Regions from separate parts of the Homo sapiens genome. Here region 2 is linked to region 1. Evidence: fine-mapped expression QTL. A gene starts in region 1. The other region holds a variant in brackets. All regions are shown on one strand. Distances are between the middles of the regions.

Region 1 (16,896 bases):
TCCCTGTTTCAACTTCCCTTCCTTGGCTCTCCTGGAGAGAGAGAGATCTTACAATGCTCATTCTCAAACTCCTCACTGGATCATCCCATTCCCTCCCCTTGGTCTTTAAATGTTAGTGTTTTCCAGAGTTCCAACTGTGACCACGTTTTGTATTGTTCTTGTTGTAGCTGCTTTTTCATTACCTTTTTGCCAACCAACCACTACCACAGATTAAATTATCTTTTTAGTGTTAGTGACTCCCAATCTGGCTCTTCAGACAGACTTCTTGACTCCACTCAAATTTCCCACAGGCTGATTATGATCCACTGAATACTAGATTCCTCCATCCCTCATCCTGTCACATCCAATCCATTAACAAATCCTGTACACCCTACTACCAATATATACCTCAAATCTACTCACTTTTCTCCATCCTCTCTTCCACCATCCTAGTTCAAGCCATCATCATCTCTTAGACTATGAACCAACAAACCTCCTAACAAGGCTCCATGCTTAATCATGGCCTTAAACAGGGTTCTTCTCCATTCTCTATAAGCAGCAAGAATAGTGTTTTTAAAGCTAAACTCCTTCTTAAAAAAAATCCAGGGCGGCCGCAGTGGCTCACGCCTGTAATCCCAGCACTTTGGGAGGCCAAGGTGGGCAGATCACTTGAGTTCAGGAGTTCGAGATCTGCCTGGACAGCATGGTAAAACCCCATCTCTACAAAAACATACAAAAATTAGGAGGCATGGTGGCACGTGCCTGTAGTCCTGGCTACTTGGGAGCCTGAGGCAGGAGAATCGCTTGAACCCGGGAAGCAGAGGTTGCAGTGAGCCGAGATCGTACCACTGCACTCCAGCCTGGGTGACAGAGTGAGACTCTGTCTCAAAAAAATAAATAATAAAATAAAAATAAAAAATAATAATAATACTTAAAAAATCCAAAGGTTCTCATAGTAACGACAATAAAACCACACCTCTCATCACAGTCTGTGAGGTCTGGCCTAGTCTGGCCCCTGCCTGCTTCTCCTCCCTCATCTTGTACCACTCTCCTCCTTGCTCATACTCAGTCACAGAGACACAGACCTTTTGTTACTTCTTTTAATTCTTCATCACTCTCTTAACTCTGGGCCTTTGTAACTGTTGTTCACTGTACCTGGAATACTCTTTCTCTCTTGTTCTCTATATGCTAACTCCTTCTCACATTTAAGTCTCATTTTAAAACTTACCAGTCTACTTGATCTAAAGTAGCCTCCTCTGCCCACCTTTGTTCTCTAACTCGGCATCTAATTTGTTTCTTTCACACTATAATTTCACATAAATTGTAATAATATATTTGTAATAATATACAAAATTATAATATATGTGTGAAAGAAACAAATTAGATGCCAAGTTAGAGAACAAAGGTAGGCAGAGGAGGCTACTTTACTTTTTCTTGAAAGGAAAGAGAGGGTGCCATTTTCTCTCTCCTCCTTGCTGATCAGAAGAGGAATATAATATGCCAGAAGCTCAAGCAACTCCATAAATAATTGGTGTTGAAATGAACTATTAGCTAAACTGGTGGGGGAATTCTTTCACCATTAACATGCACAATTCATCAACTCCATTGTTACACAATAGAGTATAACACTCTTAAATTAGACTCTATTTAATCATTCCTTCCTTTTTTGTGACTTGTCAAAAAGCTTTCTAAAAAGAAAGAACTCAAAGTTTGGCAAACACTGACAAATAAATATAGATAAGCTCCAAGGACCTCAAGGATCTTTACAAAATGAATTCGTTCCACTGCTATACCACCAGCAGACTTTGTACGCTCATTTTCTAGCATGAATAAACCACAATACGGGGTAGTTAAACAGGGTATCTTCAAGAGGTTATGTGAGTCAGTAGTAAAGCTAAGAATAAAGCTAGAACATCACTTATATATAAATATTAAGCAGCCAGTTGAAAAAGAAAATTTCAATACAATGACCTCAATTAACAACTGGTCAAACAGCTGTTCATTGAACAGCTTTCAACAAATGCCACTTGAATTAAACCAAAAGTACTAAAAAAAGATAAATAGTAGTATACAACAGCCTCTGCCCAAAGGGAGGTTAAAGATTTAAGAAGTCTAAGCTCCAAAAGGGACAGCTCTAATGATCTGGATTAGATCTAATATCCAATGAGCTAAGAAATCTAAGAAAATAAGATAGTACCAGATAATAAATATTTGATGAGTGTTACAACAGAATTGTCGGGAGAGAGCTCTTTTCTAGCTGAGGTGGTCTGGCTTCACACAGGATGTAAGATTTAAGTGGACTCCCTAAGGAGGAAAAGATTTGGATAGGTGAGGAGACTATCTGGTAGGAGAAAATAATAATGATAATATCCAACAGCAAGTAGCAGACAGAGCCAGGTTGGCAGCATATACAGACCAATTTGAGTGGGAAGAATTATGGGGAAGGTATTTGGAGATTTAAATTTGACTAGTTCAGATTAAGAAGTCTGAACTTGATCCTGCAGGGAACACATTTCTAAATAGAAGTGACATTTGAGAGAAATAAATGTAAATGCAGGATGCAGGATAAATTTTGGAATGGAGAGATTAGAGACAAAAATAATTAGAAAATTTTATCACATTTACGCATGGATTATTTTAATAAAGGTATAAACTAGGTGAATGGAAATTTTAAGAAGGATTTACGGGTTTGTGAGATAGTGAAAACAGGACCTGTTAACTGATGAGTTGGGGATAGATGAACTTTTTCCTCTCCTAAAAGATAACTACATCTGGCATATGCCTCAATTACTCAGGCTTGAAACCTTACAACTTCTCTTGCCCCTCACTCCCCGAGAATTCTCTTCCCCAGACATTTCCCCTCCCTGCAAACTAGCTTCTCCATCTTCCCCAACCACACAACATATTCCAGCCAAAAGAAAGAACTGCATTTACTAGCTTCCTAGACACACCAGGAAATTCTCAGTCCTGTAACTCTGTCCATGCTATTTCTTCTAATTTTAATGTCCTCTCCCCATTCTACATATCCAAATTCTAGCCATGCTTCCCACACCAGCTCAATGCCACTTTTCCCAACAGGCCTTCCCAGAAACCCCAACTTGAAGGAGGTATTGCCTCCGAACACTTTCTGCTCTTCTCTAAAACAGTTTTTAAAACCTTAGAGCTGTTCCTTATCTCCTCTGATAAACTGCATGCCTCTTACAGCAAACATACTTATTTTTGTATTACTCTGCCCTCTTTTCACAAATAAAGAGCTAGATAAATATCATATAGCAACAGCACAGTGTAAAGCCAAGAACACAGACTCTAAAGACAGACTGAGTTTGAATCTTAACTCTGCTGCCTGTTAGCTATGTGATCTTGGACAAGCTACTTAATCTCTCTGTGCTTCAGTATGTTTACGTTTAAAATGAATAGTAGGTATTTCAAAAGGTTGTCAAAGAATTTGGCTTAAATCTGTGTCAGCACCATAAAAGTGTCTATTAAATACATAAGATCACTTTTTAGAGTGGAAAAATCTGAATATTCTGATAGTTGTATAAAGCTTTATGATCTATACAAGGAAAAGCAAAATGTCAAAATAAAGACAGCCTCTGGGTACAAACAGCTATATACAAATTCTTTCCCTATCTTCTTATGTACACCCTAAGGGTTAGCTGTGCCCTTTATAATGTTATATTAACAGTGGCTCTGTTTTAGTTAGACATTTCAATATTCTGGGAAAACTGTTAGTTCAGCATCCTGTGGCACTAGCTACCTTGGTTACCTTGTCTCCGGTCTTATTACCTTTCATTTATCCTTTACAAGTCTTAGTCTTTCTAAAATGCAAATCTAATGCTTTTCCACTGCTACAAACCACCTCCATCCCATCTTCCTTAGGATAAAGTTTAAGCCCCTTGGCATCTCATGTAAAATCTTCCTAATCCAGCCCCAGCCTAGTCTCCAGTTTCATTTCTCTCAACATTTATCTCTTCACCAAAAAACCTCAATCACCTAACCACAGCTTAAAGGCTTTTTGTATGTCAACTTCTATCACCTAACCACAGCTTAAAGCCTTTTTGTATGTCATTCCTTTTGCCTAGAACACCTATTTGTTAGTTTGCTAGGGGTTCCATAAAAAACTACCACAGACTGGGTGGCTTCAACAACAGAAATTTATTTTTTCACAATACTGGAGTCTGGAAGTCCAAAATCAAGGTGTTGGCAGGTTGGTTTCTCCTGAGGCCTCTCTCCTTGGTCTTCTTGATGAATCCTCACATGGTCTTTCCTTTGTGTGTGCAACTCCTGTGTCTCTTTTTGTGCTCAAATTTCCTTCTTATAAGGAAAACTGTCAGACTGGATTAGAACCCACCCTAACGGCTTCATCTGAACTTAATCACCCCAAAGCCCTGTCTCCAAATACAGTCACATTCTGAGGTTACGGCTGTTAGGGCTTCAATATAATTTTGGGAGGACACAATTCAGCCCATAACAACCCCTTCCCCTTTTCTCTGCCCAGGCTAATTCCCATTTGTTTTCCCAAGACTGGTCCAAGCCTTCCCACTCCAGAGTAACTTCAGTGTTCTTTCTCTGTGCTCCCAAAGTACCTCGGCAAGCTGTGATCCCATTGCTCAACACACTATGTTAATTGTCTCTTTCCTTCTTCAAACTACATTCCTTAAGAGCAAAGACTAAATTCCTAGCATTGGCACAGTGTGTGGCACACAGAAGGTGTTTAATAAAGATTTGATCACTGAAGGAAAATGAAAGAAAGAACAGGAACCTTGAAGTACGACAAGCATGGGTTCAAATCCTGATTCCACAGTTTACTTATCTGTGACTCTGAGCAAGTCATTACATGCTGAACTTCCATTTTAAATAAGGTAGTTGTAAAGACAAATGACTAACTCATAATGAAAGCACCCAGCTGTGGGGCTGGTACACAGTAGGTTCTCAATAAATGTTAGATTACAGATTTTGATCTTGTCTTCTCTGACACTCAGTACTACCATGTAGTAGCTACATGACCTTTGGTATATTTACTATCTTCTCTTTGCTTTAGTTGCCTATCTATAAAAACACCTCAGTGCTATTGTGAGGATAAGTTAATATAGGTAAAACATTATCTAACACATAGTATTACATAAATGTTTCCTATTATTATAAGAACACTGCAGATCTGAACAGATAATGACTCAACTATGAATAATTTAGTTCTTTTAATTACTAAGTCATTTAAATGTGACTATTACCTTTTTGCCTCCTATTTCTTACCAACTAAACAGGATGGTAACTAAAGAGGTTCAAAACTGGTACAGATAATATAATGAGAGCTCACAATAAACATGAAATAAGACATTATCTGTCTCATTCCTTATACTGGTATTTAACATATTTGGGGCACTAAAGCAAAGAAAGTTTCAGTGGAGAATAACACTTCTCTGCTCGTATTTTAATTTTTTTTAGAGATGGCGTCTCACTCTGTCACTCAAGCTGGAGTGCAGTGGTGCCATCATCGCTCAAGGGATCCTTTGATCTCAGCTGGCACTACAGGCACAAACAACCACACCCAGCTATTTTTTATTTTTGGTAGACATGGGGTTTTGCTATGTTGAACAGGCTGGTCTCAAGTCATCCTCCTGCCTCGGGCTCTCAAAGTGCTGAGATTACAGGTGTGAGTCACCACACCCAGCAGGGTCATATTTTTATTTGCAGACTCACAAAACCTGTAAACTGAAAAGAACCTTTTGATAAAAGTCCAGTCTTATAATTTCTTACATAAGTGAGATGGATTTGGAATGGGCTTTTCGGGTCTTACTGAGCAGTTCAGTAAGAAATGGGAATTGTAGGCAGAGAGAATCAGTTTGTTCAAAAGTACTAAAGCAGGGGTTCAGGACTTATTCCAGATGTCCAAGGTGTGTGTTGGAACCAGTCTTAGACAATAACACTAGACAATCCTCTTTAACCACTCAACCTTTAAAGTCTATAATTTCTGAAGTACGTATTAGTTACCTGATCTGTGACTTGGAAGCAAGGCAGATCTAGATTTAAATCTCCCCTTGTTACATAAGCAAGTCTTTGAGCCTCAGATTAGTGTGATAGGTTTGTTAAAGTGATTAAGTGAGCTAAAGTATGAAGAGCTCCCACCTGGGGTGCCTGGCAGATTGCAAATACTAAAATGTTGGTTCTTTTTTTTTTTTTTTTTTTTTGAGACTGAGTTTCACTCTTGTTGCCCAGACTGGAGTGCAATGGCTCGATCTTGGCTCACCGCAACCTCCGCCTCCTGGGTTCAAGCGATTCTCCTGCCTCAGCCTCCTCAGTAGCTGGGACTGCAGGCATGTGCCACCATGCCTGGCTAATTTTTTTTTTTTTTTGAGATGGAGTCTCGCTGTTGCCCAGGCTGGAGTGCAGGGGTGCAATCTTGGCTCACTGCAACCTCTGCCTCCGGGTTCAAGCAATTCTTCTGCCTTAGCCTCCGAGTAGCTGGGACTACAGGCGCGTGCCACCACGCCCGGCTAATTTCTGTATTTTTAGTAGAGACGGGGTTTCACCATATTGGCCAGGCTGGTGTATTTCCTTTCAGTAGAGACGGGTTTCTCCATGTTGGTCAGGCTGTTCTTGAACTCTCCACCTCAGGAGATCTGTCCTCCTTGGCCTCCCAAAGTGCTGGGATTACAGGAGTGAGCCACAGCGCCCGGCCAAATGTTGGTTCTTTCTAACAAACCTCTTCCATCATATGAATAAGTGTGTAAGATAACAAAACACTGTCTTTCACATGGTATGTGCTTGCTAAATGTCTGAGACTTGCTGGACATTACTTAATTTTAAAAATAGAAAACTGGAGCTGGGTGTGGCGGCTCACGTCTGTAATCCCAGCACTTTGGGAGGCCAAAGCGGGTGGATCATGAGGTCAAGAGATCGAGACCATCCTGGCCAACATGGTGAAACCCCATCTCTACTAAAAACACAAAAATTAGCTGGGCGTGGTGGTGCGCGCCTGTAGTCCCAGCTACTCTGCAGGCTGAGGCAGGAGAATCGCTTGAATCCGGGAGGCGGAGGTTGCAGTGAGCCGAGATCACCCCACTGCACTCCAGCCTGGCGACAGAGCGAGACTCTGTCTTAAAAAAAAAAAAGAAAAGAAAGTTGGAATAACTGCTAGGATGATAAAATGTCTTCATCCCTGACCTTTCTCACCTCCAAATGTCCTTCACAATTTGTTTTTAAGTGTCATGTCACCACCATTAACCTGCTATTTGGAGACTACTGTACCTCAGACTTCCAAGTCAACAGCAAAGATCTAAAGGTCGGGAAGATTTACGGAGACCAAGAACTGAAAGTGTTCCTTTTGTTCCTATGGTCCATTCCATCAACTTGATGAATATCCTGTGAAGTTACCTTTTTTTTTTTTTTTTCTGACGTAGAAACAGCAGGTCTAAGCAAAAGGTGCATGAGCAAGAGCAAGTAACATCCCTATTATTATGACGCAGATTTTTTTTTAAGTTGAAATTCAATTTTTGGGCTGCTACTAAAAAGGACATGTGCGAATATCTATTATTTACGCTTCAAACTAAAGTCAGCCGTTTTTCTTTTTCAAGATATGTGGCATCTGGCTCAAAATCAATTGCAAGAAAAGCCCAACTCTATTTGACCCAGAAAGAGCTCTTTCCAATACCCTCTCCTCCCACTTACATCACAGATGGCGACTGAAGCTTAAGGTTTAATGCCCGACCCTAAAGCCACTCATCCTAAAAGACAGGGCTCCAGATGGATGCTGTATGGCAGAGGATAAGGCGCTATGAGAAGCTGCCAAGCCTCAGATGTGCAGCTGGGCTGAATACCGACGCCAGCGCCTAGCGCCCATTACTTTGCACCCACACTTAGGAAACAACCCACGCCTCACCGCGGGACCCGGACCCAGCCCTCCAGCACCCAGCCTCCGGCTCCGACGTCCGCGCGTGACCTCCGGGTACCGGAGGACCTTGGGACGAGGAGGTCCCTCCGCTTTCCGGGGAAGTTGTCAAGGGCAAGTTCGGGTTCTGCGCGGACAGCTTACTCACTGGAGTGGTTCGGCATCCTCTGTCGTCCGCCCGCGCTTCCTCAGGAAGCCCCTAATGCAGCGGCAGCCTGAAAGCAGCAGCCGAAGCTGCTGCCGCTGCTCCCACTGCCAGCAACCGCCCGGGCGTGGCAGGGACAGGCGGGCGACTTCACAACATCATCACTCGGCGACCTCGGTTCTGCGGCGACACCGGGTCAATGGCAGCCCCCACACAATTGGGGAAGCCAAAGGAGAGCCACTCTCCCAGCGGCCTCCACGGCCCCAGCGCAAGACCTGCTGGGAATTGTAGTTTCCTGCCCGCCCCGCCTCAAGCTCGAAGGCCCCGCCTTCTCGCTGCCCAGCCCCGGGGAGGGAGGCGGGGCCGCGACCCCGGCGCGGGTGGGGCGAATGCGTTCCCAGCGGGTAGCCTGGGACTGGTGCAGAGTTCCAAGCCCACGGCCCCGGTCGCGGCCTCGCCGCCCTCCCGCGCCCCGCGCCGGGAGCGGGCCTAGAGCGCTCGCCTCGCCCCTCCGCGAGCAGGGCTCTGGCGCCCGCCCCTGTCCGCACCGCTGGCAGCCTGAAGAGAGTCGCTGGCCGTGGTCGCCGCTAGGGTAAAGACGGGAGGCAGGCCCGGGAAGGGAAGGTGTCGGGGCCGGTGGGGGACGTGTGAGGGAGTGAGCCTTGGTCCGCGCACGCCCGGGAAGCCAGAGGCCAGAACGCGCTAGCCCACCTCCAGCCCGAGCACCGGCGGCTGGCGGGAGCCGTGGCAAGAATGCGGCCCGAGGTGGCGAGCAGCCACTGCGCCAGTGCAGCTCGGGCTCAGCGGGGCCCGGGCCGCGGGTTCGCAGCCCGCCCAGTGGTGCCTGCCGGGTTGGCCGTGCCGGCCGTGCCAGGTGCGCGGGGCCCAGGCCGCCCGGGCGCCCTCTCCCCGCACCCCTCACCTTTGGCCGCGCTCTCGGGCTTGGGGAGTTGCCATATCGAAGACACCCTCAGACCCCAGCTCTATCTGCCGCCTTCTGCAAGTTCGCTGCAAAGTCCCCCATAGCAGGACTAGGAAGGAACCTTTTACAAAATTAAATACTCGAGTGTCGTTTTGTCTTCGGTTTTTCAATTCAACGCTGTGTTTTTCCCTGCTGGGTCTTTGTCAAGTACCTTTTCCCCAAAACTTGATACGGATGTGTAACACGGCGCCTGCTTAGCACGGTGCCTGGCACCCAGTAGGCGCTCAGTAAAGATTTGTTGAACGCATGAGTCACTAAGCTTGGAAAATTCTCCTGAACTGTGCGTCGCTATGATCTTTGTTAAGATTTTATGGGTTCCCAAGATCACTTTGAAAATTACAGTAATTTTAAAGCTCAACAAAGAGTTACATCGGGTCATTTTTGCATTCCCTGTAACAGTGGCCTCTGTTGAATGCCTAAATTAACTCAAAACCCGTGTTCTAGAAGATGCGCCCTTTGGTTTCTACAGAAAGTGTTAATCTTTCAGATCAAAGTCTTCACATGAACCATTCTATTATGGAACAAACTGAAATTACTTATAAAGCTTTATCGTAATTAGCGTTTTGGATACAAGTGTAAGGGACTGCACTGATGTACTTGTGAATACGAAATATAAGTCTCTTAAATATGACTTTTTTTTAAGAAAGGGTTTATATTCATATCTCGTGAAAGAGCATGCCGGAGAAAATTATAATAACAGCAAATCCCCCACCCCCACCCCTTTGCTGGGTGCAGCTGCTGCCTTGACCTCAAAATGTCTTGTAAAATTATCTCTTAATAGTCTGGTGTATCTAAGGCAAAAATCTCTGAGATTAAACCACCCCATAGGGACAACCCTTTTATTACTAACAATTCTTACCAGATTGTGTCTGTTTCTTCTGAGCTTTTCTGAAAAAGAGAAAAAAATAGACAACGTAATGGAGTTTCACATTATTAAGACAAAATCAGTAACAACTTGCTGACATTGAGTGAAAAAAGCAGGATACAAAATCATGATAACCAGAAAATTTGGTTAATCATGACATCCATAACCCTTCTGCTTGTGGGAAGGTCAGCTACAAGTGGCCAGGGTCTTGTCTGCCCTGATTACCAGCGGGTGTCCACAGTGCCTGACCCATGGTAACCACTCATTAAACACTTGTGTAATGATTACTTGGCTGTTAACAGATTAACAGTGTATTGACTATGATGTGTAGTTTCTTCATTTACTTGGATATCTCCTTAGAATAGATCACTCCGGGGAATTTTACTGGGTCAAAAAGTATGAATATTTTCATGGTTATTGAAACATTTGACAACCTGCTTTCCAAATAAACCTTATAGTTTTGTACTGCCATCAGTACATTTGAGTGTACCTTTCAAAGCATAGTTCAAGCTGATACAGTGTTTGCTAATTAGGGGCACTTTGAGATGTAACTCATTTGATTTCATTCACCCTGGAAGGTTGGCAGGGCAGGCATTGCTTTCCTCCTTTTGCAGCACAGCAAACTCCAGTGCTTTAAATTGACGGTAATGAATGGTAGGTGGCTAAATGATCACAGCCTTTCAGGTCCGTCTTCCTCCCAATCTCTACCTTTGGTTCATAGTGAACATCCTGAATAAATTCACCTCTTTCTTTAGCAATAAAATTGGATATTGCTTTATGGTTTTTATGGTTTACAAAATCTTCCCTTTCTCATCCTGCTCACATATTTGTAGATGGGTTCATCAAATTTGGGGAGTTGAAATAATGAAGCACAATTTAGATGAAAGAGATGATGTTGGTTAGATGTAAAGGGATGCTCTGAACCCACAAACTTACAAGATTGCCACCCTTTCTATTAGTAAAGGTCTGGAAACCGTGGATGGTGCTTTTGTATCTCCTTGAATTAATTTCCTAGTCTGTTATTCTGATTCTTTCCCATATTTGCTGGTCAGGGACCCCAAATGATTTAATACGTAATTAATCCAATAAGAAAGGGCTTTGGAAAGTCTCAAAGTTTAGTTGTAATATGTGGAACCATTGAAAATTCTTGGGGTTTATTGTAAGTGACACTGTTTATATCAAAAGTGGGCCAAAAATTGGTTTTCTACATTGCTTTCAAATTTGCTCAGCGTTCTTTAAAAAACAAACAAAAAACAGTATAGAAAAGATAGGGAAGGAGAAATGCAAACATATTGAGGCTTTGGAAATATTCAGGACTTCTTTTTGTTTTCACTCTGCTTCTTGGTTGTGATGTCAGATCACAAATAATGTTCAGTAAAAAATAAATGCTCTTTAAAGATACTTTTCAGGAATGTCTCCTTGTGTCAAGGAGTAGCTGCCTAAATATTGGGTATCAGGGAATAGCTGCCTAAATATTGGATGGGTTTAAGGCAACTGGTTCTTTAAGGAACTTTTATGTGAATCTAAATTATTTTGCTTTTGTTTTTTATAGTAGGATATATCTGCATCTTGAAAGGAAGATAAAACAAAAGCCTTCTTTGGAATAGATGGATTTTTGTCACTTTCTGTGTGAACTAAAGTGATTCAATGTCTCTTTTGGTAAGTTTTTGTAAATATAGATCTGATTTTGTTCTGTCAGAGTAGTTGGATGTTAATGCCAAGCCATAATAAAAGGCATATTCTGATGGGATATTCTTATGCTCTGAGATATTGTTTTGACCTGATTGACTTCTGGACTTGAGAAATGAATTACATTCTCATTGAGTTTTTCTTTCTTTCATAAAGAACTTCTCGTATACTTCAATATGTTCATTATTCTAATCTTTTGTCCCATATCTACTTTTTCTCATAGGTGTTATACTTTGATATGCCACCCACACCAGTTAGCTATGCCTTATCTTTTAAATCTTTCAGAAATTCCTTTTACAAATTTCCATCTGACCAAAAGCAAGCCAAACAGTATTAAAAATAACCCCTTTGACTTAACCGAAATAAAATCATTTGGATCAATGTATATATGAGGTATAGCTGCCAACTGGTTTTCTATTTATATTTAGATCCGTGGTATCTACTTTAGATTAAGTAGCTTGAGGACTTTCATCCTGTTTTATACATAATAATAATATTTGAATAGGGAATACTTATATTAAAATGTGGTTTTTAAAAAAGTAATGAGTAGACCACGTGTAGTGGCTCACACCTGTAATCCCAGCATTTTTAGGGGCCAAGGCTAGAGAATCAGTTGAACCCAGGAGTTCAACACCAGCCTAGGCAACATAGTGAGATCCTGTCTGTATAAAATATTAGCCAGACGTAGTGTCATATGCCTGTAGTCTCAGCTACTCAGAGGGTTAAGGTGGGAGGATCCCTTGAACAAGGGATCAAGGCTGCAGTGAACTGTGATCATGCCATTGCATTCCAGCCTGGGTGATAGAGGGAGATCCTGTCTCAAAAAAAAAAAAGGATGAGTATATTTGTATGATGATTTATAGTTTACAAATACTTTCATATATTTCTTTCATAGTTTCAAATTGTGTAAGTTTAGCAGGGCAGGTGGCATTATCCTCATTTTCAGTTTGTCCAAGATTGCAAAAAGTTGGAGCCAGACTCATACCTGCCAATCTATTCTATCAATTACCAAGGCTGAGAGGCAGAACTATGAAGTTAGAAGACTGGATTGTTAGTAATATGGAAAATACATAACACAGTTACTTACATGTTTAAAGTAAAGCATTACCACTTGAAAGAGAAGCTTTATATATCTGGAAAATACACGGAGGTGAAATGTTTTATTCTGTAAAGGAGGGATCAGCAAGCTTTTCTGTAAAGGCCAGATAGTATTTACAGACCCTTTGGTCTTTGTTACAGCTACTTTTCTGCTGAAATACTAGCATGAAAGCAGCCATAGGCAATATATAAATGAATGAATGAATGTATCTGTGTTCCAGTAAAACTTTACTCACAAAAACAGGTGGTGGGTCAGATTTGGCTCATGGACCATAGTTTGCCGACCCTTACTCTAAAGGATTACTTAAGATTTACAATTTTATATCAATTTTTAAGTTGGAAAAGATGTGAAAGGGCATTCAGTCTATTCCCTTCATTTGATAGGCGAGAATTGTGAGATTCAAAGGGCTGTGTGTTGCCCAGGGCTTTCAAATTTTGGAAAAAGAATATCTTAGCCTATTATTCCATAATTATGGGTTTTGTGAAAAATAATAGAATGTGATAATGGGTGATTTATATCGTTAATGATTGTAACTTTAAATCACATTTTTCTGCAATGGTGAAATATTTTAAATTCTTTGAATCGAAATATTTACTTTTTTTCCTTAAACGAGAAATTTGTGCAGTTGGGATAAAGTTGATACTTTTACTTAAGGATTCCTCCCCATTCAAGTTTTACCCTCTATTTGAGAACTAAGAAATGCTGTTTTCAAAGGAGCAGCATATGTAAAAATATCTTCTTTCAGTTTCTTTGTAAGGTCTAACTACTTTTTACTTGGCTATTATGATAATGGATAAAGAAATTATATTCAAAAATATTCAAAGGGAAAAGGTATGTGGGGTGAAGTTCAGAGGAAACCAGGCACAAGCTTTCAAGAATCTTTTCTCAGTGGAGTTCCATAGTATATGCACAGTTCCCCCAGAGTTGTGACATGTGAAATGTTGTCTACTAGGGAAGCTCATTAGAGACTTGGACTTAAGGTTTTTATTGGGGACTTGTCACGTAGGCGTGCTCTGCTAGCAAGTAACAAAATTCCAGTCTCCCAGAAAAAAAGCCAGGTGTTCAGCATAAACTGTATTATTTGCACAAACAGTTTAGACACAGTGAGCGATTCTTATGAAGGGAACCTCTGCAAAATCCCAGTTCCCAGATACTAGCCAAGGGTCAACCTTATAAGCAGCTATTTTCTAAGAATAGCAGTTTTAGGCCTGCTGTTAATTCTTCTTTTGCACAGTGGTATTAATGGTCGTTGTGAAAAATTCAAGCTAAATGTTGTAAAAATATATAAATACCAAACAATATATAAATGTCCTGCCCAGCTGGTGGATATTTTCAATATGAACAACAGTAATAAGTATCTTCAAAAACTGTTTTATTATAAATGTTATTCACCCTAGGAAGCCATTAGAAACTCTGCAGAGGAATCAGTTGTACAGCTATCTTGACATTGTTAGCGTCTATTCTTCAGGGTGAGTTTTACATAAAACAGTGGGAATATATACCAAATTTTTGTAATAGATTTATAAAGTATACAGACTGTAGGAATTCAAGTTAAAATAATCAGTAATGAAGGCTAACTGGGACAATGACTAGTTTGATTAGTGAGAAATTCTGGCATATCTTAAAAGGAAATTTATATTTAAGTAATTGACTACAAAGTGTTAAGTAGACATAGGTAGACATATCTTAAGAGACTCATTTGATATTGTACTTTAATGTTAATATAAAAATAAGATGCTTGAAATGAAAAATTCTGAAATGGCTGTGGTGGCTCACGCCTATAATCCCAGCACTTTGGAAGGCTGAGGTGGGCGGAACACTTGATTGAGGTCAGGAGTCTGAAACCAGCCTGGCCAACATGGTGAAATCCCATCTCTACTAAAAATACAAAAATTAGCGGGGCGTGGTGGCAGGTGCCTGTAATCCCAGCTACTCAGGAAGTTGAGGCAGGAGAATTGCTTGAACCCAGGAGGCAGAGGTTGCATCAAGCCAAGATTGCACCACTGCACTCTAGCCTGGGTGACAGACTGAGACTCCGTCTCAAAAAAAAAAAGAAAGAAATTTTTTCAAATATTGAAGTTATCTTGTTATAAAAGCCTCTCATACAATGTGTTTATACTTTTCTTTTGACATACTTTTTCTTCCTAAATAGTATGTCAGCTTCACCCCACTGATTGATGATGTGATAAATCACATGTAGGTGTTACATTTCTTTATTGGCAATAAATAATAATAGAACCATGGGTTAATATGCAGAAAAATGTAAATTGCGATAATAAAAGTAAGTCTCTTTTAATTTGCTTTGAGTTATAATTAGAGATGTTTATCACCTTTAAAAACAATTATTTTTTCACTCAATATGTGGCTTAATGTGAATAAACATGGTTTCTATACTTAAGATAGCTGAGGATCAAAATAAAAATAATTATAATGAATTCAGCAGAATAATCTTTGGCTAAATATTCAGAAGAAAACCTCAGTGATGTTGACAGACAGAGTTAAAAATTAACACCAACAGTTAAAATGAATTATTATGACATCAAGAAAAGAGGGCAAGGATCAGTGATAGCACCAAATAAAATTCTCACATATATGAAGTTTGTCTGCATGCCCAGCCACTTCTCCCTTCTCTCCCATGCTGAGTTCCTCATGATGTGGATCCTGGCTTCAATTCCAAGTTTCTGCAAGTTGCCCTTCCTCTCTTTTCCCCACTGTAGTCATTAGACCTTTTTGTATCTACATACCACCCCTGCTTATCCTGTAACTTATTTTTCACTTATATAATGCATTTCTGACTTCCAGGATTGCTTCTGCACTTCAAGAACACAAGTTGAATCACTCAGACCTGAAAAACAGTCTGAAACCAGTATCCATCAATACTTGGTAAGAAAATGGTTAGGCTGGATGCAGTGGTTCACACCTGTAATCCCAACACTCTGGGAGGCCAAGGCAGGAGAATCACTTGAGCCTAGGAGTTCGAGACCAGCCTGGGCAACATAGTGAGATCTCATCTTTAAAAAAAATGGTTGAGTACAATGAATGCTCTAACTTTGCCTTCTGTAATACTATTCACTCCTACTTCTCTTCTATTTCTTTTTCTTTACAGTGTCCTTTACTATTTCTTCCTCCTGCCATTTTCCAGGAGTCTATAACTGGCCATTTCTCTTCTTCCTAAAGTGGCTCTTCCTAAAGTGGCTCTTCCTAAGCAGTTTCACCTGTTCCTATGACTTCAGTTGCTCAGATTTCAGATTGTCCTGGAGTTACCACAGGTTTCCTGAGGGGACCCTGGCATCAAGCAGAACTGATGCTTCTCAGATTTTTACCTGCAACCCCAGACTCTTTCCTGGGCAACAGACGTGTCTCTAGAATACCTCCAATTGGATTTTTCTAAGGCATCTCTACTCAGTTTGAATAAAACCTTAATCTTCTTTCAAACCCACCAACTCATGGTATTTCCTACTTTGTCTAATGAAAACTCATCTACTATGTCATCCTAACTAAAAACTTTAGAGTTATCCTCACACGGCCTCTACCTCTGTCCCCATATTTATTATCTGTCTCTGAAATGCCCTGGGGTCTATCCCCTACTTCACATGAGCACTGCTACTGCTCAGGTCTCATTGTCTCTCACCTGGGCTCTTGCAGGTGGACTCCTTGCCTCTAGGCTCCTAGACACACACATAGTCTTCTCCCACCACTCACATCTGTTCAGTGTTCAGTAATGCTACCAATACAGGCCTGCTTGTATCGCTTTCCAGCTTTGAAACTTCCATTGGCTTCCTAAAGCCTATGGGATAAAGTCTAAATTAGCATAATATGAGGGCTCTTACTGGTGTAGAATATGTCTTAGTTTCATTCTCTACTTGAGATACTCTTCTTTCTTTTCTGCCTCTGAAATTCTTCCTCATCCATAAAGAATTGGTTCAAATATTGTATCTGTGAAGCCTTTCCACTTACACTTTTTATTTGGTTCTGCTCCCGTGTATCTTAGATATATCTAAGGATATTTCTTTGGGATCTTTTCCTCTCCTTATTCCGTACTTTATACTGCATTTTTTACTACAGAATGGAACCTACCTTGCAAATGCCTTATTCACTACAAAATTAGTGAATCCCAGTTAATTTTGCTTATAATTTAACCCCCAGTCCTATCTTCAGCTGTCTTTATTTCTGTTATTTGGCTTTTTATTCATTAATACCCTAGTCTTCTGGTTACCTGTCTCTTCATAAAATAGGAAGTAGTATCTGA
Region 2 (12,540 bases), 580 kb before region 1:
GCGGGCGCCTGTAATCCCAGCTATCCCGGAGGCTGAAGCAGGAGAATCGCTTGAACCCGGGAGGCGGAGGCTGCAGTGACTCGAGATCGCGCCACTACACTCTAGCCTGGGCGACAGAGCGAGACTCCAAGAAAAGAAAAAAGCTCCAACTGCTAACCCAAGAGGAGTGGCTGAAACGCCATCGCATAAAATTCTCGGTCACCTGACTTCTGTCACAACGCTCCTTCAAATACACCCCAGCATTTCTCTTTCCTTGGGTTCCTAAATCTGGTTTTTGTTAACACCACTGAGGACAAAGCCACTCGCGATGTTTACGCCGACACTTTCATCATTAGACATTAACTGTAACCCCTACGGGTTCCGTCTCTTTCTCCACTTACTCCAGACAACGTTTCCCCACAGCTGCTTGGCTCACGCACATTCTGGAACCCCAGCAAATCCCCCCTCAACGGGGAGCCTCGCCTTTCCGGCCACAGGGCCGAAGCCGGCCTCCGCCCAGCCGCCATCTTACAGCTCCGCCGAGGCGGTTCACAACATGGCGCCCGCCCGACCGTCCCGCGTCAGGCGGCGCCGCTTCCTCAGCGGAGGGCAGAAGCTCCAAGAGGGCGGCCGGCCTAGCAAACACCGTAACTACCCCCGCAGGCCGGATCCGGCGGCGACAGGCTCGGCCGCGCAGGAAAGAGGGGCGCGCCGCCACTGTGCAGCCTGGGAGTGAAGGGAGCAGGCAGTCGTCGCGCCGGGGACGGCGGGCAGCAAACAAGCAGGAAAAGGGGGCATCGCCAGGCGCCCGCGAGGCTCACAGGAACGGCCCTGTCACCTAGTCCGCTCCCTCCTGCGTCTTACCGTCCTGGACAAAGACTCCAAGTCGAAGGAGACAAAGCTTGTAACGCAATCACGGGAATCACGCAGCTGACTGCGTCGCGCACCAACAACAAAATGGAGCTGACAGCTGCTGCGTCGAGACTCGTCTCGAAAACACTGATGACGCAGCGAGCGCGTCTCCGCCGCGGGGCGGGTCATGCACGGGGCGAGCAGGCGGAAAGGGCGGGCGTGTCGCGCGCGCGACCATCGTGGGCGCAGGCGCCAGGGAGGGAACCAGAGCCCGCTGTGGCGGATGAAAGGAAGCCGTCGGCGTGTTGTCCCCACTCACTGATAGTTTTTGAACTCTAGAACAAGGAACAACTTGTGAACAAGGAAAAGTGAGGGAATCAGTATACACAGTAGCATGTACCCTGTTAGCGACCACTAAAACAATTGCTTTAAAACTAATACTTCACGGCGCGGTGGGTCACGCCTGTAACCCTAGCACTTTGGGAGGCCGAGGCGAGCAGATCGCTGAGCCCAGGATTTCGAGACCAGCCTGGGCAGCATAGCGGGACCCGTCTCTAAAAAATAAATAAATAAATAAAATATACCACTAGCGTCAGATGGCTTCAAATTACTAATGGGATCAGTGTGAGCCAACAGAAATCAATGTTCTGCACCTTGATCCTCATGGTGCCTGCATCAGGCCCAACGTGGGCAGCCAGCATACCTCCCTGTCTATGATACTTTTATGGCCGTAACTGAGCACACATTCTAAAAATAAGCTCCTTGATAAGTTTTGAAGGGAAGGCCAGCGTTAAAGATACAGAGTGGCAGCTCTACAGCAACTGCGGGCTTTATGTCCAGCCTAAGACCTACAGAAGTGGGGAACCAGCCTAATGCCAGTGCCCACCAGTGGGGTACTTTTAGGTAAGGGCGGGAGGGGCCTGGGCCATATGGCTTGCTGACTTGCTGCCCTGCAGGATGTTAAGATGTTCCCATAATGAGGCGGTTCTGGCCCTTGTTCCCGCAGAATGTGGTGGTAGTTTTTTTTGTTTTGTTTTGTTTTTGAGACGGAGTCTTGCTCTGTCGCCCAGGCTGGAGTGCAGTGGCGCGATCTCCACTCACTGCAACCTCCGCCTCCTGAATTCAAGCGATTCTCCTGTCTCAGCTTCCCCAGTAGCTGGGACTGCAGGCGTGCGCCACCACCCCTCGCTACTTTTTGTATTTTTAGTAGAAACTCCTGACCTCAGATGATCCACCCGCCTCGGCCTCCCAAAGTGATGGGATTACAGGCGTGAGCCACCACGACCCCCCGGGAATGTGGTGTTCTTTGCACTTTCTCCCGGCAGAATATGATAGGGGTGTTTCTTTAGTTGCGCCTTTGTCCGTTTTGTGGTCAGGTGGTTAGGCAGGATGTTTCTCACAGCCCGAACCCCTGTGGAATGTTTCACTTTGACCAAGGTCTGCAAAATAGAGGGTGGGGGAGACCAGGCAGGGCTGGGGAAACGGGGCAGGGCGGTGGGGGGGCAGGATTTACAAAATGGTGCAGTTTGGACTAACACTCCTAAAATCAAAAAAAACATATTTGCACCACTAATTAAAAGTGGCAGAGTTTAGAATAAAACTTGGAGGAGGTCAGACGCAGTGGCTCACGCCTGTAATCCCAGCACTATGGAAGGCCAAGGCGGGTGGATCACGAGATCAGGAGTTCAAGACCAGCCTGGCCAAGATGGTGAAACCCCGTCTCTATTAAAAATACAAAAAATTAGCCGGGCGTGGTGACAGGCACCTGTAATCCCAGCTACTCGGGAGGCTGAGGCAGGAGAATTGCTTGAACCTAGGAGGTAGAGGTTGCAGTGAGCCGAGATCCACCATTGCACTCCAGCCTGGGCAACAGAGCAATACTCCGTCTCAAAAAAAAAAAAAAAAAAAGTGGCAAAACAAGGTCTGGCCAAAGAAAGGCCTTAATACTAAGTCTAGAAACTTAAATGATTAAAATTTTAAAAGTGAAACAAAATGTAAAGTCATTAGTATGCCGGGTGCGGTGGCTTACGCCTGTAATCCCAACACTTTGGGAGGCCAAGGTGGGTGGATCATGAGGTCAGGAGTTTGAGACCACCCTGGCCAACATGCTGAAACTGTCTCTACTAAAAATACAAAAACTAGCAAGGCGTGGTGGTGCTCACCTGTAATCCCAGCTACTTGGGAGGCTGAGGCAGAATTGCTTGAACCCGGGAGATGGAGGTTGCAGTGAGTCAAGATCGCGACATTGCGTACCAGCCTGGGCAATAGAGTGAGACTCTATCTCAAAAAAAAAAAAAAAAAAAAAGAATTGCTTGAACCCTGGAGGCAGAGGTTGCAGTCAGCCGAGATTGCGCCACTGCATTCCAGCCCAGGCGACAGAGTGAGACTCTGTCTCAAAAAAAAAAAAAAGTCACTAGTATAACTGGCACTGTTACGGTGGGTAGCTAGTCAGGTATGAACAAAGCAGGAGATGGCTCCCCCAAACACACACTAGGAGTGTCGGGCAACCATCAGGTGAGATGGTCAGGCGGTTATTAACTCTCTTGCTGAAGTAGTAATTGGTCACAGCTGGCACCAGGGAACGGCAGTCTCCTAATAGAAAACACCTGAAACTGGTGAGCAGCAGCTTCCCAATAAGATCTCAGGAGTTGGGCAAGTGGGGAGAAGTAATGCAAGACCTTGGAAGTATGCCAGTGTATAAAACGCCAAGTCAAAAGCTCAAGCCACACATTTATCTTTCAAGTCGCCCGCTTGGTCCTCTTCCAAGCGTACTTCCCTTTCTTTCATTCCTCCTCTAAAGCTTTTTAATAAACTTTCACTCTTGCTCTAAAACGTGCCTCACCCTCTCCTTCTGCCCCTCAGTCGAATTCTTTCTTCTGAGGAGGCAAGAATTGAGGTTGCTGCAGACCTGTACGGATACAGATTCGCTGCTAGTAAAAAGCACCTCAGTTTAGTGGAAGATATAAATGGTGACAAGAGGATAGCTGTAAGCTAACTCCAAACTAGTCAAGAAAGAATCAAAACATTAATTAGACCAGCCATTGGAAGAAATGAGACAAACCAAGAACTGATGCCAAGACAAACATTTTGAGACGGAGTTTTGCTCTTGTCACCCAGGCTGGAGTCCAACGGCACGATCTCAGCTCACCGCAACCGCCGCCTCCCGGGGTTCAAACAATTCTCCTGCCTCAGCCTCCCGAGTAGCTGGGATTATAGGCATGTGCCACCACGCCCAGCTAATTTTGTATTTTTAATAGAGACAGGTTTTCTGTATGTTGGTCAGGCTGGTCTCGAACTCCCAACCTCAGGTGATCTGCCCGCCTTGGCCTCCCAAAGGGCTGGAATTACAGGCATGAGCCACTACGCTCGGCTGGTATAAGTTTTAGGAACACCCAAATCCAACCACTGTGATCTAGGCAGTGGGCAGAATATGGTCTTGATGAAATCAGTGGTAGAACCCAATGAATGGCTTGATGAGGTGAGAGCCCTGTGGTGGACATGAATGTTAGGACAGCAGCTTCTACTTACTTACTACATGCCAGAAGCTTTACACACATTTAACCCTCACAATTGTCTTCTGAGGTATTATTTATGGATGAGAATACTAAAGCTTGAAGATGTTAACTTGCTTAAAGTTACACTGTAAGGGACACAGCTGTGATTCAAACACAGACCAGAACTCCACAAACTGGTGCCTTTAACTAGTTCATTGCATTTTTCAAATGGATATTCTGTAAAGCTCCACTCTTCAATATTTTCAGAGATATGCCTTATGTTCTCACTTGTAATATAACCAAGTATCCTAGCCTTGAAATGCATTTTAAAGTTTTTTTTTTCCTTTTTTTTTTGAGACAGAAGTCTCTGTTTCCACGCTGGAGTGCAGTGGTGCAATCTCGGCTCACTGCGACCTCTGCCTCCCAGGTTCAAGCAATTCTCCTGCCTCAGCCTCTCAAGTAGCTGGGACTACAGGCGCGTGCCACCACGGCCAGCTAATTTTTGTATTTTTAGTAGAGACGGGGTTTCACCATGTTGGCCAGGATGGTCTCGATCTCTTGACCTCATGATCCGCCTGCCTCAGCCTCCCAAAGTGCTGGGATTACAGGCGTGAGCCACCGTGCCTGGCCCTTTCTTTCTTAATTTCAGAATGTAGTCTTGTTAAAACCGTTTCCCTCCCTTTCCCGCCTCACACTCCCTTATACTATGCACATTTATCTAACTGTACACTTGTTAAACTTACACTATACACTCTTATCTATAGGGTCTTAACTCTCTTGCCCAGGCTGGAGTCCAGTGGCACGACCATGGATCACTGCAGTCTCTACTTCCCTAGCTCAAGCAATCCTCCCACCTCAGCCTTTTAAGTAGCTGGGGCTACCACATCCGGCTTTTTTTTTTTTTTTTTTTTTTTTTCAATTTTTAGTAGATTCAAGGTCTCACTACGTTGCCCAGGCCGATCTAAAACTCCTGGGCTCAGGTGATCCTCCCACCTTGGCCTCCCCAAAGTGCTGCGATTATAGGTGTGAGCCACTGTGCCTGGCCCATCAAGGGCTAATCATGACATATACCAGGCTTGGAGACCCAGCTGCAAAATTCCAGAGATTACCTTAAGGTGGTTAGTCAACAACCCAGCCATTGTTGAGATGATGCCAGCCCCCACTCCAGGTGGACCACAACTCAAGATAGCCACTACAGCAAGCCACAGAGATCTGAAACCCTGCACCACTCCCGCATGCCTCCCATTCTAAGTTCCCTTTTTAAGCACCTCTCCCCAGCCTAAAGTTCAAAATGATTTCTTTAAGGTACTAGCTTTGGCCATTTCCCCACTGCTAGCTCTGGAATAAAGTCACTTTCCTTTTCCTGCATCTCCTCCTTGTTGTTGACTTTGCAAGTGGCGTGCAGCCCAGCCTGCATTCAGTTACAATAAATGGGAGCTAAATCTTGGATTCACATGGACAAAAAGATGGGAACAGTGGACACTGGGGACTCCAAAAAAGGAGGAAGGGGCAGGGGCAAGGGCTGAAAAGCTTCCTTTTGGGCACTATGTTCACTGTCTGGGTGACAGGATCAGTAGAAGCCCAAACCTCAGCACCATGCATTATACACTTGTAACAAACCTGCACATGTACCTGCTGAATCTAAAATTAAAAAAAAAAAAGATATGCCTTAAAAAATGTCCATGAGCAGGCCGGGTGTGGTGGCTCAC[G/A]CCTGTAATCCCAGCACTTTGGGCGGCCAAGGTGGACGGATCACCTGAGGTCAGGAGCTCACGACCAGCCTGGCCAACATGGTGAAACCCTGTCTCTACTAAAAACACAAAAAAACAATAGCTAGGCATGGTGGCAGATGCCTGTAATCCCAGCTACTCGGGAGGCTGAGGCAGGAGAATCACTTGAGCCCGGGAGGCGGAGGTTGCAGTGAGACGAGATTGTGCCATTGCACTCCAGCCTGAGTGACAAGAGTGAGACTATGTCTCAAAAAAAAAAAAAAAAGTCCATGAGCAAATCAGTTGGGAAATGTTGAGTGTTTACTGTATTCCAAGACATCTTTTTTTTTTTTTTTTTTTTGAGATGGAGTCTCCCACTGTCACCCAGGCTGGAGTGCAATGGCTCGATCTTGGCTCACTACAACCTCTGCCTCCCGGGTTCAAGTGATTCTCCTGCCTCAGCCTCCCAAGTAGCTGGGACTACAGGCACCCGCCACCATGCCCAGCTAATTTTTTATATTTTTAGTAGAGACAGGGTTTCACCATGTTAGCCAGGATGGTCTTGATCTCCTGATCTCGTGATCTGCCCATCTTGGCCTCCCAAAGTGCTGGGATTATAGGCGTCAGCCACCACACTCGGCCTCCAGGACCTCTGAGAGCCTTTACTGTAAACCTAAAGATCACACCTGTAATCCCAGCACTTTGGGAGGCCGAGGTGGGCAGATCATGAGGTCAAAAGATCAAGACCATCCTGGCCAACATGGTCTCTGTAAACCCCGTCTCTACTGAAAAAAAAAATACAAAAAGTAGCTGGGCATGGTGGTGTGCACCTGTAGTCCCAGCTACTTGGGAGGCTGAGGCAGGAGAATCACTTGAACCTGGGAGGCAGGGGTTGCAGTGACCCGCTGCACTCCAGCCCGGGTAAAAGAGCAAGACTCCGTCTCAAAAAGAAAAAAAAAAAAATCAGAGAAAATAGCAAATGGATTGGCTGGCCTTTCCAGACTAACTTTTTATCCTGTCCCTCCTCTTTCTAACTGTATAAAGTGAATAATTAATGGTAGAGCTCTTACCGTTAGTATCAGTTTCAGGAATACCCAAATTTTCAGATTTGGGGATACTTGCATATACATAATAAGATATCTTGGAGATGAGACCCAAATTTAAACATGAAGTTCATTTACGTTTCATATATACCTTATACACATAGCCTGAAGGTAATTTTACACAATATTTTAATTAATTTGTCCTACGATTTAATTCTTTAAAACTTTTTAAATTTTATTATAAAATAACACTTCCAGGATACGGACTTGCTGTGGGAGGAATATGTAATCAGGCCACTCAAAAATGCCTGCACTTGAGGCTGAGCATTTAAAAATGAATGTTCATATGTAACAAAAATTAAATGATGTATTTTTTGTATTAAAATTAAAGAAATATGTTGGATAATCATTATAATAAAGAATATGCTCTAAGAATGGGGATAAAAGCTGTTGGGCGCCCCTTGGTACCACCATTTCATAGAAGATCATAGTTGTAAACAAGCAGAAGGATGATGCAATCTCTGACATAATTAAAACCGGGTAAACCACAATAAGTGTGTTCCAGCAATTTGTCAAGTTATTTGTCCAGGTCTATCATAGCTACTGAGCAAATGGGTTGGCATGAATAGTTATGTCCTTAATGTGTACATCATTAAGAGGTCGGTATGTCTTCTCATTTACTGGCAACTTCTCCAACTCATCTAGAGTTTCCAGACCATCTATTACCCTGAAAGAGAAACAACATAACATATGAAAATTTCCTTAAATTGAAACATGATATCCATATCTATGACAATTACAGTCTCCTTAAAAAATAATCAAGTCTTACAGATCTCTGAGTTCTCTAGTTGAATGTACAACAAAATGTTGATTTTCCATCATAGATATGGATCAAAATTCAGAAATAATTTACTTTTATGCCCTTAGTCAACAATACAAAGGGTAGGAATATTTCCACCATAGTACCTAAAATTATATTCTACCCCATTCATACAGTGACAGAGAACAGCTACAAATGGGACTAATATAACCAGTTAAAGGGAAAACAAACTGTTTTTCTACACTTTCATACTTCCAACACCAAATGTGTGGGTTTTCCCAGTTCTCCAATTCTCTGGGTATCCCACAACTTGATTATTTTTTCAAAATTTTATTTAATTTTTTAAAGACAGGATCTCACTGGGACTACAAATGCATGCCCCCACACCTGGCCCTATAATTTAATTGTGACACTAACTACAAGGAGTGAACAGAGACCCCGGTTAATCCCACAAGACAGCCCCTACCACTTCGGATGCCAGTTCCAAGTCCCGATTGTGATCTGTACTATCTGACTAACCATGATATAATTTGGGATTTTTCATGCCCCCCAGCTCTGTTCAATAATTTTCAAAAATGGCTCATAGAACTTAGGAAAGCACTTTATTTATTACTATGGGCTATTATAAAGGTTACAACTCAGGAACAACCAAATGGAGGAGATGCATAGGGCAAAGTCTGAGAGAGGGGCACAGCGCTTCCATGCTCTTCTCGGGGTGTGTTACCCTCTTAGTATCTACTTGTGTTCACCAACCTGGAAGCTCTCAAACCCTGTTTAGGGTTTTTACGGAGGGCACATTAGGTAGGCACGATTAATTAAATCACTGGCCACTAGTGACTGGAACTCAATCTCCAGCCCTTCTCTCCTTCCCAGAGGTCAAGAATAGGAGGTCACTGAATGTTCCACCCCTCTAAAAATACATGGCTGATTCCTCTGGCAACCAGCCCTCCATACTGAAGCTATCTAGAACCCCACCAAGAGTCACCTCATTAGCATAAACTCAGGTATGGTTGAATGGGGTTTATTATGAACAATAAAATATTCCTTTCACTCCTGTCACTCAGGAAATTGCAAGGTTTTTAAAAGAACTATGCTGGAAACCACGGATGAAGTCCAAATATGTATGTCTTATTACAACACACTAGTCATAAAGATTTCTTTGCTACAGGAAATACATGGAGAAAGTATGTAGATGACACTATTAGCAATACTGCCCTACAATGAGAGTCCTAAAGTAGGTGACCACTCCACTTTGTACTTGTTTTTTTTTTTTTTGAGATGAAGTCTCGCTCTGGTCCCCCAGACTGGAGTGCAATGGTGTGATCTCGGCTCACTGCAACCTCTCCTCCTGGGTTCAAGCAATTCTCCTGCCTCAGCCTCCCAAGTAGCTGGGATTATAGGAGCCTACCACCACGCCTGGCTAATTTTTGTATTTTTAGTAGAGACGGAGTTTCAGCATGTTGGCCAGGCTGGTCTGGCCTGACCTCAGGTGATCCGCCCGCCTTGGCCTCCCAAAGTGTTGGGATTCAGGCATGAGCCACCAAGCCCAGCAGTTAATTGTTTAATTATAGTATTTCTTTCTTTTTTTTTTTTTTTGAGATGGAGTCTCACTTCCATTGCCCAGGTTGGAGTGCAGTAGCACTATCTCGACTCATTGTAGCCTCTTCCTTCAGGTTCAAGCAATTCTGCATCAGCCTCCCAAGCAGCTGGGACTACAGGCACATGCCCCCATGCCCAGCTAATTTTTGTGTTTTTAGTAGAGATGGGATTTCACCACATTGGCCAGGCTGGTCTCAAACTCTTGACCTCAAGTGATCTGCCCACGTCAGCCTCCCAAAGTGCTGGGGTTATAGGCATGAGCCACCACGTCTGGCCTAATTATGGCATTTCTACTTTTTGCTTCTGGATAACAACAAGAAGTAATAAAAATAGGAGAAGAGAAGACTGACAGTTAACAGCCTCCAGCAATCCCACTTCATGTTACCACCAAGAAAAAATATATTGAGAGCTATTCTTCAAATACAAGTTTTGGAAATTTCAGTCTAAAACATTTGCTAAGAAAGAGTGGCTTTTGATCTCTTGACCTCGTGATCTGCCCGCCTTGGCCTCCCAAAGTGCTAGGATTACAAGCGTGAGTCACTGCACCTGGTCATCTGACTGCATTTTGACTGCAACCCGTCACATGAGGTCAGATGTGGAATTTTCTACTTGTGGCATCATGTCAGTGCTCAAAAAGTTCCTAATTTTTAATTTTCAGATTAGGGATTCTCAACCACTGGTATGTACTTTAAAAAATTAACAGATTTGTAGGCCTGGCGCAGTGGCTCACGCCTGTAATCTCAGCACTTTGGGAGGCCAAGGCGGGCGGATCACGAGGTCGGGAGATTGAGACCATCCTGGCTAACATGGTGAAACCCCGTCTCTACTAAAAATACAAAAAATTAGCCGGGCGCGGTGGCGGGCGCCTGTAGTCCCAGCTACTTGGGAGGCTGAGGCAGGAGAATGGCGTGAACCCAGGAGGGTGAGCTTGCAGTGAGCTGAGATGGCGCCACTGCATTCCAGCCTGGGCGACAGAGTGAGACTCTGTCTCAAAAAAAAAAAAAAAAAAAAATTAGCAGATTTGCATTTTATTTTGCATTTTCACAAAATGGGTACTTCAACCAAAACATTTTGATTTTACCCCTAAATATAGACATTTAAGTCTTTAAATTATAAGTCTTAAAGGCTATCCCACCTTCTAGGTCAGTAAGAGAAACAGAGGAGGTAGAAAACATAGGTCTCAGGTAAAAAGTTAAAAAAACCCAGCAGGTAGAACTGAGGCAGTTAAGTAGAGTCAAGTATATGGGAAACGGACCCCTTGGAGAACTAGAGGAAAGTTACTGGATCATCTTCCCAGAAAAATGTGTGTGCATCTGTATACAACAAACAAGGAATTAATGAACCTAAGGTTAATCTTTGTTCTAAACTCTACAGTTTTGTCGCAAATCCAGTAAAATGAGTCCTGGTAATAACTGAACAATAATTTTGAATGATGTTGGTTAAGGGAGAAAATAAGAGGGAAACTGGGTTATTTACAAACATAAAAAAACTACTAGATGTTGTAATATTTCTTTTCTCCTTGATTATTATTAATGTGTAAATTAGATACATGTATATGGAATGAAAAAGAAAAGATCTGTCTAGATCTCACTGCAGCCTTGACACCCTGAGCCCAGCAATCCTCTCACTTCAGCCTCCCAAGTAGCTGGGACCATAGGTGTGAGCCACCACACCTGGATAATTTTTAAATTTTTTTGTAGAGACGGGGTTTCACTATGTTACCTAGACTGGGAGTCCTCTATTTTTAATTAACCTAATTTGGCATCCAAACTATTAAATAGAACAAACTCTAGAATTGTGCCTTGGTTTATTAAGCATGATAATTATTTGTTGAACGAACAGACAAATTGACTTCCCACTGATTTATAAAAGCAACTCCCAGACATAGTACTCTTAATAGATACCCTGGCAGAAACTGTGAAATACCTTCCTAGGAGCCATTCTTCTTACTCGGAGAAATCTAATTTTAGTAAGGGTGGCAATGTGGCTGAAATACATTTTCTACCCTCCATTGTAGGTAAGGAGTGGTCACATTACTAAGTTCTGGGTCTTCTGGGAAAGTTTTTTTTTTTTGAGACGGAGTCTCGCTTTGTCACCAGGCTGGAGTGCAGTGGCGCAATCTTGGCTCACTGCAATCTCCACCTCCAGGGTTCAAGCCATTCTCCTGCCTCAGCTTCCTGAGTAGCTGGAATTACAGGCACGCACCACCGCACCCAGCTAATTTTTGTATTTTTAGTAGAGATGGGGTTTCACCATGTTGGCCTGGATGGTCTTGATCTCCTGACCTCATGATCTGCCCTCCTTGGCCTCCCAAAGTGCTGGGATTACAGGTGTGAGCCACCGCACCCGGCTTTTCTTTTTTTCTATCTTTTTTTTTTTAGAGATAGGGTATCATTGTTGCCCAGGCTGGAGTACAGAAGTGTGATCTCAGCTCATGCAGCCTGGAACTCCTGGGCTCAAGTGATTCTCCCACCTCAGCCTCCTGAGTAGTTGGGATTACAGGTGTGTGTCACCACACTTGGCTAATTTTTAAATTTTTTTTATAGAGATGGGTTCTGCTATGTTCCACAGGCTGGTCTTGAACTCCTGGCCTCAAGTGATCCTCCTGTCTCAGCCTCCCAAAGCACTGGGATTACAGGCCTGGGAAAGTTCTGTTAATTAAAAAAGGTGAATCAGCTGGCAAGCACCTTTTGTCTTTCCTCCCCTTTCCTCCCTGATACACAGAAGTTTTGATAAGAGCTGTGCTGCCAATATTATGACAGAGGCGCCTAGAACACTGGTAACAAAATGGAACCACCATGCCAGTCCATCTTGTTTAAGCCACTATTTTTCAGATCTGTTAGTTGCTGTGAAATGCTATCATTAATGAAAATGGACCAGCCTGGGCAACATAGTGAGACCATGTCTCTAAAAAAAAAGTGTTTTTTTTGTTTTTTTTTTTTTTAAAGTAGCTGCGCATGATGGTACACATTTGTGGTTCCAGTTACTCAAGAGGCTGAGGTGAGAAGATCACTTGAGACCAGGAGGTTGAGGCTGCAATGAGCCAT

Alleles and levels. Positions count from the first base shown, and alleles are read on the strand shown. Sizes are in standard deviations (SD) of each study's normalised expression.
For the expression in neutrophils of the gene that starts at base 8,406 in region 1, allele G in region 2 goes with a higher level than allele A (large effect, 0.84 SD a copy in BLUEPRINT).

Evidence for each region. PIP is the estimated chance that this variant, and not a neighbour inherited with it, causes the effect. A credible set is the group of variants that fine-mapping cannot tell apart.
Region 2: its variant is the best candidate, but not a certain one, in a credible set for the expression of STRADB in neutrophils (BLUEPRINT, PIP 0.86).

Annotation. Positions count from the first base shown.
Region 1 is chr2:201,443,335-201,460,230 of GRCh38, forward strand. STRADB (STE20 related adaptor beta) reads left to right here and starts at 8,406. Exons shown (of 12, transcript NM_018571.6): 1 at 8,406-8,604; 2 at 11,412-11,518; 3 at 15,450-15,530. The coding sequence starts at 11,507. It overlaps TRAK2 (trafficking kinesin protein 2), which reads right to left and starts at 8,124. Exons shown (of 16, transcript NM_015049.3): 1 at 8,016-8,124. RefSeq lists enhancers at 7,479-8,333, 7,737-8,266 and a silencer at 8,297-8,976.
Region 2 is chr2:200,863,721-200,876,260 of GRCh38, forward strand. It overlaps PPIL3 (peptidylprolyl isomerase like 3), which reads right to left. Exons shown (of 7, transcript NM_130906.3): 7 at 7,187-7,801. The coding sequence ends at 7,675. CLK1 (CDC like kinase 1) reads right to left here and starts at 938. Exons shown (of 13, transcript NM_004071.4): 1 at 844-938. RefSeq lists enhancers at 1-77, 108-657. The variant G/A (reference allele first, on the strand shown) is at 6,035.